2 linked regions of the Homo sapiens genome follow. The protein of the gene in region 1 purifies or fractionates together with the protein of each later gene. This does not show direct contact. Each region holds a gene or a part of one and is shown in the gene's direction. Other genes may lie near its edges.

Region 1 (8,603 bases):
TTTAGACTTTTACAATCAGTTGTAAAAGAATGCAAATTCTTTGAATCAGCCATATAACAATAAGGCCATTTAAAAGTATTAATTTAGGCGGGCCGCGGTGGCTCACGCCTGTAATCCTAGCACTTTGGGAGGCCAAGGCAGGTGGATCATGAGGTCAGGAGATCGAGACCATCCTGGCTAACACGGTGAAACCCCGTCTCTACTAAAAATACAAAAAAATTAGCCGGGCATGGTGGCGGGCGCTTGCGGTCCCAGCTACTTGGGAGGCGAGGCAGGAGAATGGCATGAACCCGGGAGGCGGAGCTTGCAGTGAGCCGAGATCATGCCACTGCACTCCAGCCTGGGCGACAGAGCAAGACTCCGTCTCAAAAAAAAAAAAAAAAAAGTATTTATTTAGGCCGGGTGTGGTGGCTCACGCCTGTAATTCCAGTGCTTTGGGAGGATGAGGTGGGTGGATCACCTGAGGTCAGGAGTTCGAGACCAGCCTGACCAACGTGGAGAAACCTCATCTCTACTAAAAAACAAAATTAGCCAGGCGTGGTGGCATATACCTGTAATCCCAGCTACTCAGGAGGCTGAGGCAGGAGAATCAGAACCCAGGAGGGGGAGGTTGTGGTGAGCTGAGATCGTGCCATTGCATTCCAGCCTGGGCAACAAGAGTGAAACTTCATCTCAAAAAAAAAAAAAAAAAAGTACTAATTTACAGGCTGGGCATGGTGGCTCACGCTTGGAATCCCAGCACTTTGGGAGGCTGAAGTGGACGGATTGCTTCAGCCCAGGAGTTCAAGACCAGCCTGAGCAACATAATGAGACCCTGTCTCTACAAAAAATTGAAAAAATCGTGCCAGGCATGGTGGTCTGTGCCTGCAGTCCTAGCTACTCAGGAGTCTGAAGTAGGAGAATCACTTGAGCCTGGAGTTTGAGGCTTCAGTGAGCCATGATAGATTCCAGCCTAGGCAACAAAGTGAGACCTGGTCTCAACAAAAGTATTAATTACACAAATAATGCATTGCTTATCACAAGTAAATTAGAAAATACAGATAAGGAAAAGGAAGTTGATATCTCGTGAGCTCACCAGATGGCAGTGGTCCCTGGCTCACACGTGTACTGACACATGTTTAAATAGTGGAGAACAGGTGTTTTTTTGGTTTGTTTTTTTCCCCTTCCTCATGCTACTTTGTCTAAGAGAACAGTTGGTTTTCTAGTCAGCTTTTATTACTGGACAACATTACACATACTATACCTTATCATTAATGAACTCCAGCTTGATTCTGAACCGCTGCGGGGCCTGAACGGTGGGTCAGGATTGAACCCATCCTCTATTAGAACCCAGGCGCATGTCCAGGATAGCTAGGTCCTGAGCCGTGTTCCCACAGGAGGGACTGCTGGGTTGGAGGGGACAGCCACTTCATACCCCAGGGAGGAGCTGTCCCCTTCCCACAGCTGAGTGGGGTGTGCTGACCTCAAGTTGCCATCTTGGGGTCCCATGCCCAGTCTTAGGACCACATCTGTGGAGGTGGCCAGAGCCAAGCAGTCTCCCCATCAGGTCGGCCTCCCTGTCCTGAGGCCCTGAGAAGAGGGGTCTGCAGCGGTCACATGTCAAGGGAGGAGATGAGCTGACCCTAGAACATGGGGGTCTGGACCCCAAGTCCCTGCAGAAGGTTTAGAAAGAGCAGCTCCCAGGGGCCCAAGGCCAGGAGAGGGGCAGGGCTTTTCCTAAGCAGAGGAGGGGCTATTGGCCTACCTGGGACTCTGTTCTCTTCGCTCTGCTGCTCCCCTTCCTCAAATCAGGAGGTCTTGGAAGCAGCTGCCCCTACCCACAGGCCAGAAGTTCTGGTTCTCCACCAGAGAATCAGCATTCTGTCTCCCTCCCCACTCCCTCCTCCTCTCCCCAGGGACAGTGAGGTCCCAGGCCCCACACCCATGGAACTGGAGGCCGAGCAGCTGCTTGAGCCACACGTGCAAGCGCCCAGCCTGGAGCCCTCGGTGTCCCCACAGGATGAAACAGTAAGTTGGTGGAGGGGAGGGGGTCCGTCAGGGACAATTGGGAGAGAAAAGGTGAGGGCTTCCCGGGTGGCGTGCACTGTAGAGCCCTCTAGGGACTTCCTGAACAGAAGCAGACAGAAACCACGGAGAGACGAGGTTACTTCAGACATGGGACGGTCTCTGTAGTTACAGTGGGGCATTAAGTAAGGGTGTGTGTGTTGCTGGGGATCTGAGAAGTCGATCTTTGAGCTGAGCGCTGGTGAAGGAGAAACAAGCCATGGAAGGAAAGGTGCCAAGTGGTCAGGCGAGAGCCTCCAGGGCAAAGGCCTTGGGCAGGTGGGAATCCTGATTTGTTCCTGAAAGGTAGTTTGGCTGAATCATTCCTGAGAAGGCTGGAGAGGCCAGCAGGAAACAAAACCCAGCAAGGCCTTTTGTCGTGAGGGCATTAGGGAGCTGGAGGGATTTTGAGCAGCAGAGGGACATAGGTTGTGTTAGTGTTTGAGCACCAGCCCTCTGGTCCCTGTGTAGATTTAGAGGACCAGACTCAGGGATGGGGCTGAGGGAGGTAGGGAAGGGAGGGGGCTTGGATCATTGCAGGAGCTATGGGGATTCCAGAAATGTTGAGGGGACGGAGGAGTAGGGGATAAACAAGGATTCCTAGCCTGGAACCAGTGCCCAAGTCCTGAGTCTTCCAGGAGCCACAGGCAGCCTTAAGCCTGGTCCCCATACACAGGCTGAAGTGGCAGTTCCAGCGGCTGTCCCTGCGGCAGAGGCTGAGGCCGAGGTGACGCTGCGGGAGCTCCAGGAAGCCCTGGAGGAGGAGGTGCTCACCCGGCAGAGCCTGAGCCGGGAGATGGAGGCCATCCGCACGGACAACCAGAACTTCGCCAGGTCGGGATCGGGGCCGGGGCCGGGGCCGGGATGCGGGCCGGTGGCAACCCTTGGCATCCCCTCTCGTCCGGCCCGGACGGACTCACCGTCCTTACCTCCCCACAGTCAACTACGCGAGGCAGAGGCTCGGAACCGGGACCTAGAGGCACACGTCCGGCAGTTGCAGGAGCGGATGGAGTTGCTGCAGGCAGAGGGAGCCACAGGTGAGTCCCTCATGTGTCCCCTTCCCCGGAGGACCGGGAGGAGGTGGGCCGTCTGCTCCGCGGGGCGTGTATAGACACCTGGAGGAGGGAAGGGACCCACGCTGGGGCACGCCGCGCCACCGCCCTCCTTCGCCCCTCCACGCGCCCTATGCCTCTTTCTTCTCCTTCCAGCTGTCACGGGGGTCCCCAGTCCCCGGGCCACGGATCCACCTTCCCATGTAAGACCCCTCTCTTTCCCCTGCCTCAGACCTGCTGCCCATTCTGCAGATCCCCTCCCTGGCTCCTGGTCTCCCCGTCCAGATATAGGGCTCACCCTACGTCTTTGCGACTTTAGAGGGCAGAAGCCCTTTATTCAGCCCCAGATCTCCCTCCGTTCAGGCCTCACCAGATTCCCTCCGGGATCTCCCTAGATAACCTCCCCAACCTCGATTCCCCTCGCTGTCTCTCGCCCCACCGCTGAGGGCTGGGCTGGGCTCCGATCGGGTCACCTGTCCCTTCTCTCTCCAGCTAGATGGCCCCCCGGCCGTGGCTGTGGGCCAGTGCCCGCTGGTGGGGCCAGGCCCCATGCACCGCCGCCACCTGCTGCTCCCTGCCAGGGTACGTCCGGCTGCCCACGCCCCCCTCCGCCGTCGCGCCCCGCGCTCCACCCGCCCCTTGCCACCCGCTTAGCTGCGCATTTGCGGGGCTGGGCCCACGGCAGGAGGGCGGATCTTCGGGCAGCCAATCAACACAGGCCGCTAGGAAGCAGCCAATGACGAGTTCGGACGGGATTCGAGGCGTGCGAGTGGACTAACAACAGCTGTAGGCTGTTGGGGCGGGGGCGGGGCGCAGGGAAGAGTGCGGGCCCACCTATGGGCGTAGGCGGGGCGAGTCCCAGGAGCCAATCAGAGGCCCATGCCGGGTGTTGACCTCGCCCTCTCCCCGCAGGTCCCTAGGCCTGGCCTATCGGAGGCGCTTTCCCTGCTCCTGTTCGCCGTTGTTCTGTCTCGTGCCGCCGCCCTGGGCTGCATTGGGTTGGTGGCCCACGCCGGCCAACTCACCGCAGTCTGGCGCCGCCCAGGAGCCGCCCGCGCTCCCTGAACCCTAGAACTGTCTTCGACTCCGGGGCCCCGTTGGAAGACTGAGTGCCCGGGGCACGGCACAGAAGCCGCGCCCACCGCCTGCCAGTTCACAACCGCTCCGAGCGTGGGTCTCCGCCCAGCTCCAGTCCTGTGATCCGGGCCCGCCCCCTAGCGGCCGGGGAGGGAGGGGCCGGGTCCGCGGCCGGCGAACGGGGCTCGAAGGGTCCTTGTAGCCGGGAATGCTGCTGCTGCTGCTGCTGCTGCTGCTGCTGCTGCTGCTGCTGCTGCTGCTGCTGCTGCTGGGGGGATCACAGACCATTTCTTTCTTTCGGCCAGGCTGAGGCCCTGACGTGGATGGGCAAACTGCAGGCCTGGGAAGGCAGCAAGCCGGGCCGTCCGTGTTCCATCCTCCACGCACCCCCACCTATCGTTGGTTCGCAAAGTGCAAAGCTTTCTTGTGCATGACGCCCTGCTCTGGGGAGCGTCTGGCGCGATCTCTGCCTGCTTACTCGGGAAATTTGCTTTTGCCAAACCCGCTTTTTCGGGGATCCCGCGCCCCCCTCCTCACTTGCGCTGCTCTCGGAGCCCCAGCCGGCTCCGCCCGCTTCGGCGGTTTGGATATTTATTGACCTCGTCCTCCGACTCGCTGACAGGCTACAGGACCCCCAACAACCCCAATCCACGTTTTGGATGCACTGAGACCCCGACATTCCTCGGTATTTATTGTCTGTCCCCACCTAGGACCCCCACCCCCGACCCTCGCGAATAAAAGGCCCTCCATCTGCCCAAAGCTCTGGACTCCACAGTGTCCGCGGTTTGCGTTGTGGGCCGGAGGCTCCGCAGCGGGCCAATCCGGAGGCGTGTGGAGGCGGCCGAAGGTCTGGGAGGAGCTAGCGGGATGCGAAGCGGCCGAATCAGGGTTGGGGGAGGAAAAGCCACGGGGCGGGGCTTTGGCGTCCGGCCAATAGGAGGGCGAGCGGGCCACCCGGAGGCACCGCCCCCGCCCAGCTGTGGCCCAGCTGTGCCACCGAGCGTCGAGAAGAGGGGGCTGGGCTGGCAGCGCGCGCGGCCATCCTCCTTCCACTGCGCCTGCGCACGCCACGCGCATCCGCTCCTGGGACGCAAGCTCGAGAAAAGTTGCTGCAAACTTTCTAGCCCGTTCCCCGCCCCTCCTCCCGGCCAGACCCGCCCCCCCTGCGGAGCCGGGAATTCCGAGGGGCGGAGCGCAGGCCGAGATGGGGAATGTGGGGGCCTGCAGAGGACCCTGGAGACGGAGGCGTGCAGAAGCTCAGTCTCGGGGCGGAGGCTTCGCGCCCTTAGTCCTCCTGGACGGCCCGTTACCTTCTGCGTTGTCCCGATGGGGAAACTGAGGCCCTGAGCCAGAAGCACACGCTGGGGGGAGGCAGAAAGCGCGGCCAGAGGCGGAGGGAAAACAAAGGGAGAATCACAGACAGACGGGAGGGGGACGGACACACACAAGGGGACAGAGACCCGAGTGGAGAGCTGGATCTCGCCTTCCCGGCGTGGGGCGCAGGGTCGGCCAGAAAGAAGATCGAGAAGAGCGGGGAGTGGGGGCGAAAAGGGGGGACAGGTGGGGGAGGAGGCTGGGGAAAGCCCGAGGGAGGAAGAGAGGGAGGGAGGAACTTCCCAAAGTTGCAAAACATGGCTACCTTGCCTGCGGAGCCGAGCGCGGGGCCGGCGGCTGGGGGGGAGGCGGTGGCGGCGGCGGCGGCGACCGAAGAGGAGGAGGAGGAAGCGCGCCAGCTCTTGCAGACTTTGCAGGCGGCCGAGGGTGAGGCGGCGGCGGCGGCCGGGGCCGGGGCGGGCGCAGCGGCTGCGGGAGCTGAGGGCCCGGGATCCCCGGGCGTCCCCGGGTCGCCCCCCGAGGCCGCTTCCGAACCGCCCACGGGCCTCCGCTTCTCGCCCGAGCAGGTGGCGTGCGTCTGCGAGGCGCTGCTCCAGGCGGGCCACGCCGGCCGCTTGAGCCGCTTCCTGGGCGCACTGCCCCCGGCCGAGCGCCTACGTGGCAGCGACCCGGTGTTGCGCGCGCGGGCCCTGGTGGCCTTCCAGCGGGGCGAGTACGCCGAGCTCTACCGGCTACTCGAGAGCCGCCCCTTCCCCGCCGCCCACCACGCCTTCCTGCAGGACCTCTACCTGCGCGCGCGCTACCATGAGGCCGAGCGGGCCCGCGGCCGCGCGCTTGGCGCAGTGGACAAGTATCGACTGCGCAAGAAGTTCCCGCTGCCCAAGACCATCTGGGACGGCGAGGAGACAGTCTACTGCTTCAAGGAGCGCTCCCGCGCAGCGCTCAAGGCCTGCTACCGCGGCAACCGCTACCCCACGCCGGACGAGAAGCGCCGCCTGGCCACACTCACCGGCCTGTCGCTCACGCAGGTCAGCAACTGGTTCAAGAACCGGCGACAGCGCGACCGGACCGGGGCCGGAGGCGGCGCGCCCTGCAAGAGGTGAGGGGCCTCGGGCGGCGCAAGTCCAGCTCTCCCGGGGACATCCCGTCCACCAGCCCTCTTCCCCCGTGCCCACTGCTGGGGCCGGCGCGCCGAGGTCCTCGGACATCTCCCGGGACCAGCTCACAATCTCAGGCGCCCGCGGGGCGCGGGGACTAAGTGTGGACGGGACAGGCACCCGCCCGGGCCCTCTCCCCGCACGCGTCTCCTCTTCCAGCGGCTCCATTCCGAGCTCCTTCCCAAATCCCATCGGTGTTGGGGAATCACACTGCGGGGGGCACTAGAGGGACTGAGGAAAAAGGACAGGGCCTGTGGCCACTCCACTCCGCGTAGGGGCTGCCTCCCAGCCCCCTTTCTTCACTGACCGTTACTCTTACCCACCCGCCCCCACACTCCCTCCGGGCCCGGACGGCGTGGTCCGTCTTCTGCCTTTGTTGTGAAACGTGAACCTTTCCCAGCTCCGGTTTCCCTGTAACCCAAACCCTTCTCCTCCCACCCTGAGCGCCGGCCTCTCCCTTCTCTGACGCCCCGCGGGGAGGGCACCGGGAACTGGGCTGGCGGCTGCTGCTCCCTCTCTCCAGGCCACTCGCCCGCTTTCCGCCCAACCAAGGAACTTTTAGGGCAACCTGGGAGCTCAGCCTCTGGGGACCCGAGGCCGAGGTGGGGGAGAGCAAGGGCCTCTTCCCTCCCCAGCGCTTCTCTGCAGTGGTGTCCACGCAGGGCTTGCAAAAGGCCCTGGAGTTTGGAGTGGTCTCAGAGAGGCGTCATAACCCCTGGAATGATCCACCGAAACTTGGGCCAGGGAAAGGTGGGGGAGCAGCTGGCTGGCTATGCGGGAGGCCCCACAGGCTAAGGGACCCCAGCTGACAGCCATTTCTCCGGCCAGCGAGTCTGATGGGAATCCCACGACTGAGGACGAGTCCAGCCGAAGTCCTGAGGACCTGGAGAGAGGGGCGGCCCCAGTGTCCGCCGAGGCCGCTGCCCAGGGCTCCATATTCCTGGCAGGGACCGGCCCTCCCGCGCCTTGCCCGGCTTCCTCCTCCATCCTGGTGAACGGGAGCTTCCTGGCAGCCAGCGGCTCCCCAGCAGTGCTCCTCAACGGGGGCCCCGTCATCATCAACGGCCTGGCCCTGGGCGAGGCCTCCAGCCTGGGCCCGCTGCTGCTCACTGGGGGCGGGGGTGCCCCTCCACCGCAGCCCAGCCCTCAGGGGGCCAGCGAGACCAAGACCTCTCTGGTCCTGGACCCTCAGACAGGGGAGGTGCGGCTGGAGGAGGCTCAGTCGGAGGCCCCTGAGACCAAAGGGGCCCAGGTGGCTGCTCCGGGACCAGCCCTTGGAGAGGAGGTCCTGGGGCCCCTGGCCCAAGTGGTGCCTGGCCCCCCGACGGCTGCCACCTTTCCTCTGCCCCCGGGGCCAGTGCCTGCTGTGGCTGCCCCACAAGTGGTACCGCTCTCCCCACCCCCGGGGTATCCCACGGGCCTGAGCCCCACCTCCCCACTATTGAACCTGCCCCAGGTAGTACCCACCTCACAGGTGGTGACCCTGCCCCAGGCTGTGGGGCCCCTGCAGCTGTTGGCAGCCGGGCCAGGCAGCCCTGTGAAGGTGGCAGCTGCAGCAGGCCCTGCCAATGTGCACCTCATCAACTCCGGGGTGGGCGTGACTGCCCTGCAGCTGCCTTCGGCCACTGCCCCAGGTACCCCCATCTCCCTCCCTCAGGCCTAGGTGAGAGCCGGGGAGGGGTGCAGTCATCTCGGAGAGGGAGGGGCTGTCCCTGGGCTCCTGGAGGGCATCTCATCCCTGGCAAGTCCCAGTGCCCCAAGGCCCACCACAAGGCTCCCTCCGCCCGCCCTCCAGCTGCACAGTCTCCACTTCTCTCTGGCTTGGCCTGCTCTCCTGGCTCTCACCTGCGCTCGGTCCCTCTCTCCCCACAGGAAACTTCCTCCTGGCCAACCCTGTGTCTGGCAGCCCCATCGTGACGGGTGTGGCCCTGCAGCAGGG
Region 2 (8,518 bases), on another chromosome or scaffold:
TCTTACAAATTTGAATTTATTCTATTCCAAAGGCGTTTTGCTGGTGAAAGTTTGAACAAAACTGTGAAAAAGACTTTAGTAATCTCCATGCAGGGTCAAGTAGGCAAAAGTGACCCATGTCTTTTTTACAGTGATGACTAGATTCCTACAGATTTTAAACATTATTAATCTATTTATTTGTGGTAAAAACACATATCATAAAATTTACCAACTTAACCATTTTTAATTATACAGTTTAGTAGTGTTAAGTATATTTGCTTTCTATGAAACAGATCTCAACCTTTTCATCTTGGAGAACTGAAACTCTATACTCATTAAAGAAACTCCCTTTTGTCCTTTCTCCCCAACCCTTTATATCCACCATTCTACTTTCCATATCTATGAATTTGACTAATTTATATAACTCATATCAGTGGAATCATATGGTATTTGTCCTTTTGTGAGTGGCTTATTTCATTTAGCATAATGTCCTCAAGATTTATTCATGTTGTAGCATGTGTACATGCTCTTTTTTTTTTTGGTGGAGTCTTGCTCTGTCACCAGGCTGGAGTGCAATGGTGTGATCCCAGCTCACTGCAACCTCCGCCTCCTGGGTTCAATCGATTCTCCTACCTCAGCCTCCTGAGTAGCTGGGACTACAGGCGCACACCACCATGCCCAGCTAATTTTTGTATTTTTAATAGAAACAAGGTTTCACCATGTTGGCCAGGATGGTCTCGATCTCTTGACCTCGTGATCCACCCGCCTCAGCATCCCAAAGTGCTGGGATTACAGGCATGAGCCACTGCACCCAGACAGAATTTCCTGCCTTTTTAAGGTTGCATAGTATTCCATTGTATGTATACCAAATTTGTTTATACATTCATCCATCAATGAACATTTGGGTTGCTTCCATCTCTTAGCTATTGTGAATAGTGCTGTCATGAACATGGGTGTGCAAATATCTCTTGGAGATCCTGCTTTCAATTCTTAGGGATATATACCCAGAAGGGGATTCCTGGATCATACGTTAGTTCTATTTTCAATTTTTTTCAGGAACCACCATATGGCTTTCCATAAGGTTGCACCATTTTACAATCCTACCAACTACTGATTGCTTTTAGAAGGTCAACGATCATGTATATCATAAGAAATTGCCTCAAGTACAATATAGAACATCAACAGAAATAAAATCCAGACCATTGTACTTCATATATGTCAATCAGGAGGGTTTAAATTAATAGCTATTATAAAACACTGATCATACATTCATCATGTCTTTTCAAAATGGAAATATATAAATTAGAGGTCTTATTTTTATTATTTTATTTTATTTTATATATTTGTTTATTTTTCGAGATGGAGTCTCTCACTCTGTCACCCAGGCTGGAGTGCAGTGGTGCCATCTCGGCTTACTGCACGCTCTGCCTCCTGTGATTCTCATGCCTCAGCCTGCTAAGTAGCTGGGACTACAGGTGCCTGCCACCACACCTGGCTAATTTTTGTATGTTTTGTAGAGATGAGGTTTCACCATATTGGCCAGGCTGATCTTGAACTCCTGACCTCAGGTGATCTGCCTGCCTCGGCCTCCCAAAGTGCTAGGATTACAGATGGGAGCCACCGTGCCCGGCCTTTGGATTTTATTATTATTATTATTATTATTATTATTATTATTTTTGAGACAGAGTCTCACTCTGTAGCTCAGGCTGGAGTGCAGTGGCACGATCTCAGCTCACTGCAACCTCCGTCTCCCAGGTCCTGGTTCAAGCAATTCTCTTGCCTCAGCCTCTCGAGAAGCTGGGATTACAGGCACATGCCACCATGCCCAGCTAATTTTTGTATTTTTAGTAGAGACGGGGTTTCACCATGTTGGCCAGGATGGTCTCGATCTCTTGACATCATGATCCACCTGCCTCGGCCTCCCAAAGTGCTGGGATTATAGGCGTGAGCCACCACGCCCAGCCTGGATTTTATTCTTAAATGACTGTAAAGACACTAGAGCACCAGCAAGGTACAGCTTCTGCTCTGGGGAGGAATTTGCATGCTTTCTTGTAGCTCTGTTTTAGAATCATAGCTGTCACATAATGATATTTTGGTAAATGATAGAATGCATATATGATGGTGGTCCCATAAGATTATTTAATATTTTTACTGTACCTTTTCTATGTTTTTATATGTTTAAATACACAAATACTTGCCATTGTGTTACAATTGCCTACAGTATTCAGTACAGTCATATGCTATACAGATTTATAGCCTAGGAGCAATAGGTTATACCATATAGCTTAGGTGTGTATAAGTCCATTTTACGATGTTCGCACAATGATGAAACTACCTAACGAGGGATTTCTCAGAACATATTCCTGTCCTTAAACAGAGTGTATATGTATGTAAATGCTTTAGGCATAACTTTTCTGGAGCTATTGCATTGATTACTCATGGGCTCCCTCTGGTGGAGGTGGTGGCTCAGTTTGCAGGGTTTCAGATCAGGAAAACCAAAGTAAATGAGCAATTTAGCCCTTCATTCAACAAACATTTACTGAGTGCCTACAGTGTGCCAGGCTCCATTCTGGTGCTGAAAAAACATCCGTGAACAAATCGGACAAACATCCATGGACTCATGGAACTTACATTCTGGCAGGGGGAGAGAGACACTAAGCCAAATTTACAAGCAACTTGTTGGATGGGAAAGTACAAAGAGGATGGTAGTGTTCCAATTTTTAATGTAGTGTCAGGGAAGATCTCATTGAGAAAGTGACATGTGAATAAAGATGTAAATGAGGTGAGCGGATGAATGATGCAGGTATCTGGGGGAAGAGCACTCCAGGCAGATGGATTAAAAAGCACAAAGGCCCTGGGCCTACCTGTAGTTTTGAGGAATGGCAGAGGCCAATGTGCTTTAAGGGGAAGGATGACAGAAGGAGTAGGAGTTGAGGTTAGAGCAGAGCTGTACTGGAGGTGTCAAATCTTGAGGGTCCTGTAGACCAATGTAAGGATTTTGGTTTTTACTCTGAAATAGGAATGCATTGGAGGAAGGATATGATCTAATTAGGGTTTTAACAGGAGCCCATTGCTACTATATTAATAGATTGTGGGGGCCGGGCGTGGAGGCTCACACCTGTAATCCCAGCACTTTGGGAGGCTGAGGCGGGTGGATCACTTGAGGCCAGGAGTTCAAGACCAGTCTGGCCAACATGGCAAAACCCCGTCTCTACTAAAAATATAACAATTAGCCGCGCGTGCTGGCGGGCCCCTGTAATCCCAGCTATTCAGGAGGCTGAGGCAGGAGAACCCAGGAGGCAGAGGTTGCACTGAGCCAAGATCAGGCCAGTACACTCCAGCCTGGGTGACAGAGGGAGGCTCTGTCTGAAAAAAAAAAAAAAAAAAAGATTGTGGGAAGGCAAGAGTATAAATAGGGCACTCACAGTCACTGACTGACTGGTTTATACCAACGGAGGCAGTAAATGGTCAGGTTCTGGACAGATTTTGAAGGCAAATCTTGCAGAACTTGCTGATGGAGTACATGTGGGATATGAGAGAGGAGTTAAGGATCTTAGTAAATGATGTTGCTTAGTACATTGTTGTCATCGGAAGAGGTGATCAAATATACAGTCAAAAAATGTAGAAAAAATAGTTTTTTTTCTGGATTTTGTTATTCGTGGTATTTGTGAGCTAATAAAAATGTTTGTAATTTTTCTCATTATAAAAGGTTCACTTTTATATCTAATATTGTATTTGTAATTTTGGATTTTTTTTTTTTTTAGACAGTCTCGCTCTGTTGCCCAGGCTGGAGTGCAGTGGCATAATCATAACTCACCGCAGCCTCTACCTCCTGGGCTCAGTTAGGTGCGTGCCACCACACCTGGCTAATTTTTCTGGGTTTTTTTTGTTGTTGTTTTGCTTTGTTTGTTTTGTAGAGACAGGGTCTAATTTTGTTGCCCAGGTGATCTCCAACTCCGGGGCTCAAGCAACCGGTCGACCTCGGCGTCCCAAAGTGCTAGGATTTCAGGCATGAGCCACTGTGCCTGGCCTTGATTATTTTAAAGAGGGCCCCCAAATTGAATAAACGTCAAGTCTCCACAAAGCCTGAATTCAACCTTGCTTCTAGCCCATACTTGGGTTGTAATTTAAAATTAACGAAACATTTAAGAATTTTGCTTCCGAAAACAGTGTGCACGAAGTGAATTGTAAGCCTAATATAATATTAAGAATAAACTAAATTTGGGGATAAAAAGATCACCTTGGGGCTCACGCCTGTAATCCCAGCACTTTGGGAGGCCAAGGGATCAACCGAGCTCCAGAGTTGGAGACCAGCCTGGGCAACATGGCGAAACCCCGTCTCTACCGAAAAATACAAAAATTAGCCGGGCGTGGTGGTGCGCGCCGGTAGTCTTAGCTACTCGGGAGGCTGAGGTGGGAGGATCACTTGAACCCAGGAGGCGGGGGTTGCAGTGAGCCGAGATCGCGCCACTGCACTCCAGCCTGGGCGACAGAGCAAGACTCTGTCTCAAAAAAAGAAAAAAAAAAAGGGATGGGCGCGGTGGCTCACGCCTGTAATCTCAGCACTTTGGGAGGCCCAGGCGGGCGGATCACCTGAGGTCGGGAGTTCAAGACCAGCCTGACCAACATGGAGAAACCCCGTCTCTACTAAAACTACAAAATTAGCCGGGCGTGGTGGCACATGCCTGTAATCCCAGCTACTCGAAAGGCTGAGGCAGGAGGATCGCTTGAACCCGGGAGGCGGAGGTTGCAGTGAGCCGAGATCGCGCCATTGCACTCCAGCCTGGGCAACAAGAGCGAAACTCCGTCTCAAAAAAAAAAAAAAAAAAAGATCACCTTGGGCTAGCCTCCCAAATGTCTTCCAAAACTTCCCACTCATTCTCCTTCCCAGTTTTTCTAAATCTACCAAATGCACCCAACACTTCTTACGTTCCTTTTAGCCAGGTAGGGATTACGCGCATTTTTAAAGACCTCCTTAAAAGTGAAGGCTGTAGTACCGTCAGGACTGCCTAGCGCTCACCCAGAAGCTGCTTGTCTCCGAGGCACTAAGAGGGGCGTGGCCATGGGCGTGGCTCGCCGGGCCGGCGGAGTGGGCGGAGCCTAAAAGCTTCCCCGCCCGGTCAGACTCAACACATGCGCCCAGAGGTTTCTAGTGGAACGAGGTGTGGATTGTGAGGTGACTCTGGCCGCTTACTTCCGGTTCCTAGCGATGCGCATCCGGGTCACGCTAACGCCGCGGTTTCCTCCGCTCGATTGGTTCTACTGTGGGTCTGGACTGATCTCCATGTCCTGTTGTGGGGCTTTTACAGCCTTTGGGTGAGTCTCAGCTGCCAACAGGGTCTGAGCGCAGCCGGGCGAGCACAGCGTGAAGGGGGATGGGTCTAGAGTTCTGCCTCGGTCCTTGTGGGTGGGAGTCTCTTCGCCTGTCCCTTGTCACTGCAGTGCTTCACTCACCTCAGCCCTTTCCTTCACGCTGGCCTCGCCTTATTCACCTCAGCTTAGCCTTCTCGCGCTTCCGTGCCTCTGTCGCCTCGCTGTTTTTCCTCAGCCTCATCAGTCCTTTTCCAACCTCGGTTTCTTGCCTTACGCCTCAGCGCTTCTCTCAGCCACTGCCTCTCCTTTTTTCTCCTCCTCCCTTCTTTTAGAACCTCTTTTCCCCTACCCCTGATCTGGGATCTCAGCGTTCTTTCACCTAGCGAGACGGCCCAGCTTCTCATTGTGCTCACTCTTCACCACGAGAAACTGAGCCTCTCCCTAGGGTCCTAGTTCCTTGTCCCCCAACTTTCTTCAGCTTTGATCCTTCCTCCTGGGACCAGTAGGTGACAGTGCTTCTCCTGGGGTTCTTCTGCCTGTCCTTAGCTAGAGGAGAGCTTTGCCAAAGCCCCGAAATGGGAAGACTTCCCCAGCCTGGGGGAAGTTTTGCCTTAAGGCGCCGGGTTAGACTGAACTCTGGTAGCTTCCATAGTTAGGGTACAACAAAGGCGTTCCTAGTTCTTCGCTTTACCTCAGTTTTGGGGCTCTCTCAAGAGCAGCTAACAGGTGGCAGGCACACGGTACTGCTAGCAGTTGGGCTGGCGCGATCTTGTTAATTGACAAGTCATGAAGAAGTTCTGTCAGTTTTGTGTTCCCATGAGAATGGATGTGCACAGCTGAGGCAAAAACGCCAATATTTTGGGACGTTCAGCTCTGTTTTCGGCATGGACGCTTCTTACAGGACACTTGTGATGATAGAGGACAGAATTTGTGGAGAGATCATTAGCCCCAGATTTATGAATTTATTGTGTTGTTTCCGAAAAGTGGTCTGCTGAAGAGTTCACTATAGTAATTTCAAAGTAATCTTTAAACTTAGTATGCACATATGCATTTTTTCATTTTTACTGTATTAAGTTTTCTATTTGTCTTCCTCTTCCTTCATTAGCCAGACTTTACTTAGAATTACATTACTTAGAAGTACATTACTTAGAATATTCTTCTAACTTTTGTATTTTTTTTTCCTTACCATTTCCACCTTTGTAGTAAAACTATCATTTTCTCATTTTGAGATTTAGGGCACCTTTCTTAAATTTCCCTAGAGGTTTAAAGTCATTTATAACATGAAGGAATTGCATTTAATAATGGTTAGTGCTCCCTTTCCCAAATTTTGTGATCTAGAGTATAGGCTTGGGTAATCTTTATTTTTTCCCGATGTTTATAGTGTATATCTAGCACTTGATTGCAGCGGTTTTTGTGTCATCAGTTTCTGTAATCTATAAATTGTGCTTTAAAATGTAGTACTTCAGTATGAACTTAAATACAGCTTTGAGCACCTGCTTATCTTTTGGCTAATTAGCTATAGAAAAATCTTCATTATATGATACATATACATATAAGAGTGTATAGTCCTTGGCTTATTCCAAAATTGGGCTCTCTTCAGCTGTTTTTAGCAAAGGACTTTGGAGCTTGGCCATGTTAGTCCTAGAAGCCACGGAGAAGGACCCTTCTGATTGGCTTTCAGGACTTATCTAACTGCTAAGTGAAGCCTCTTTGAAAGTTTCTTATGTGTACCTCCTCCCCACTACCTAGCTCTAGCTTCTGTCCAACCTGGCCTATTTTCCATCCTTCAAAACAAACCCCAATGTGTATGGCTTACTCCAGCTGCTTCCTTACCTTCAGGTTTGTGGGCTTCATTTAAGCCATGGGAATGCCAGCTTAATTAATGCAGATTAAGATAAGAACATTAAACCCCAAAAATGATGGGAAATCACTCTGTCTTCAAAACAATAGAAAATAATAAAATCTAGTTATAAAGATTATATACCATTGTCACTAGTAAGAAGTGGCACTCTTATTTACAAAACATAAAGAAATTAGGGTTTAGGTCTGGCATGGTGGTTCACACCTATAATCCCCAGCACTTTGGAAGGCCAAGGCCAGAGGATTGGCCAGGAGTTCGAGACCAACCTGGGCAACATAGACAAAATTAGCTTGGTGTAGTGGTGTGCGCCTGTAGTCCCAACTACTCAGGAGGTTGAGGTTGGAGGATTGCTTGAGCCCAAGATTTTGAGGTTACAGTGAGCTGTGATCACATCACTGCGCTCCACAAGGCAACAGAGTGAGACTCTCTTAAAAAAAAAAAAGAAATTACAACTTAAACAGTTAATTTCCAAGGTCATTTTTTTTTAAGTCAAGAAGTCCTATACATGCTCTCAAGAGTAGCGAGTGTTAATTCCATTAAAGCTGTAGGCTGGAAAGCACAATATAGTATTTAGTGGGTCATTTCAGTATATGTCATATATGAATGAGACTATTAGGATAAGAAATCTGTGACATGGATTTTAAAATCCAAAGCCGAAGTCATTTTGCCTTCAAAGAGTGACTAGAGAAAGAAACTGTTTTGTGCAGAAGTAGAAGTTGAAAAGTTTTAGGAGTCTTTTGTTCTTCTAAAATGACTTTGGCCTGTATATTCTGCATTGAAGCCATTAAATGAAATGAGCATCCTGTGTAGTCATTGGAGCAGTTGTGTTCCATGCTGCTGATCTTCAAGCCTGACCCTCCACCTAGCTGCCAAACCAAAACAAACAAACAAACAAACAAACAAACCCAGAGACAGCTTAATGTGTGTTTGTTTTTAAAGCTCAGGAAAAAAAATTACCGTTGATTTTCTACAAAAATTTCTACTTTAGTTGGTAGCCCTAAGGGCTCAATTTAAAATATGTTTCTGCATATTAGTTTTAGGCTTACCAAGTTTTCTTATTTTGGTTTGGTTTGATTATTTTTGGTTCTTTTTTGTCATTTTATTTGCTAATGTACTTTGTCTTACTTGTTTTGTTTGTTTGTTTTTTGGTCCTTGAATCCTGTGTTTACGGAGATGTAGTTTTTTGTTTGTTTGTTTGTTTTTTTGAGACAAAAAACAAAACAAAACCTTGCTCTGTTGGCCAGGCTGTAGTGCAGTGGCACGATCTCGGCTCACTGCAGCCCTGACCTCCTGGGCTGAAGTCATCCTCCCACAGCCTCCAGAATAGCTGGGACTACAGGTTCATGCCACCATACCTGGCTAATT

Evidence for each region.
Region 2: the proteins of SIX5 (region 1) and EYA3 purify together in Homo sapiens (affinity purification with western blotting; 2 studies listed by BioGRID and IntAct, with this or other methods). This does not show direct contact.

The regions. Positions count from the first base shown.
Region 1 is NC_000019.10:45,766,045-45,774,647, reverse strand, and holds the start of SIX5 (homeobox protein SIX5), read left to right. Parts: upstream 1-5,395; 5' UTR 5,396-5,803; coding exon 5,804-6,606; exon of another isoform or gene 6,607-6,852; intron 6,853-7,492; coding exon 7,493-8,298; intron 8,299-8,536; coding exon 8,537-8,603. Other genes in the region: DMPK (myotonin-protein kinase), read left to right, coding at 1,896-2,007, 2,720-2,877, 2,983-3,080, 3,252-3,298, 3,592-3,677, 4,008-4,167. UniProt on the Homo sapiens protein: Transcription factor that is thought to be involved in regulation of organogenesis. May be involved in determination and maintenance of retina formation. Binds a 5'-GGTGTCAG-3' motif present in the ARE regulatory element of ATP1A1.
Region 2 is NC_000001.11:28,085,301-28,093,818, reverse strand, and holds the start of EYA3 (protein phosphatase EYA3), read left to right. Parts: upstream 1-5,208; 5' UTR 5,209-5,295; intron 5,296-8,518. UniProt on the Homo sapiens protein: Tyrosine phosphatase that specifically dephosphorylates 'Tyr-142' of histone H2AX (H2AXY142ph). 'Tyr-142' phosphorylation of histone H2AX plays a central role in DNA repair and acts as a mark that distinguishes between apoptotic and repair responses to genotoxic stress.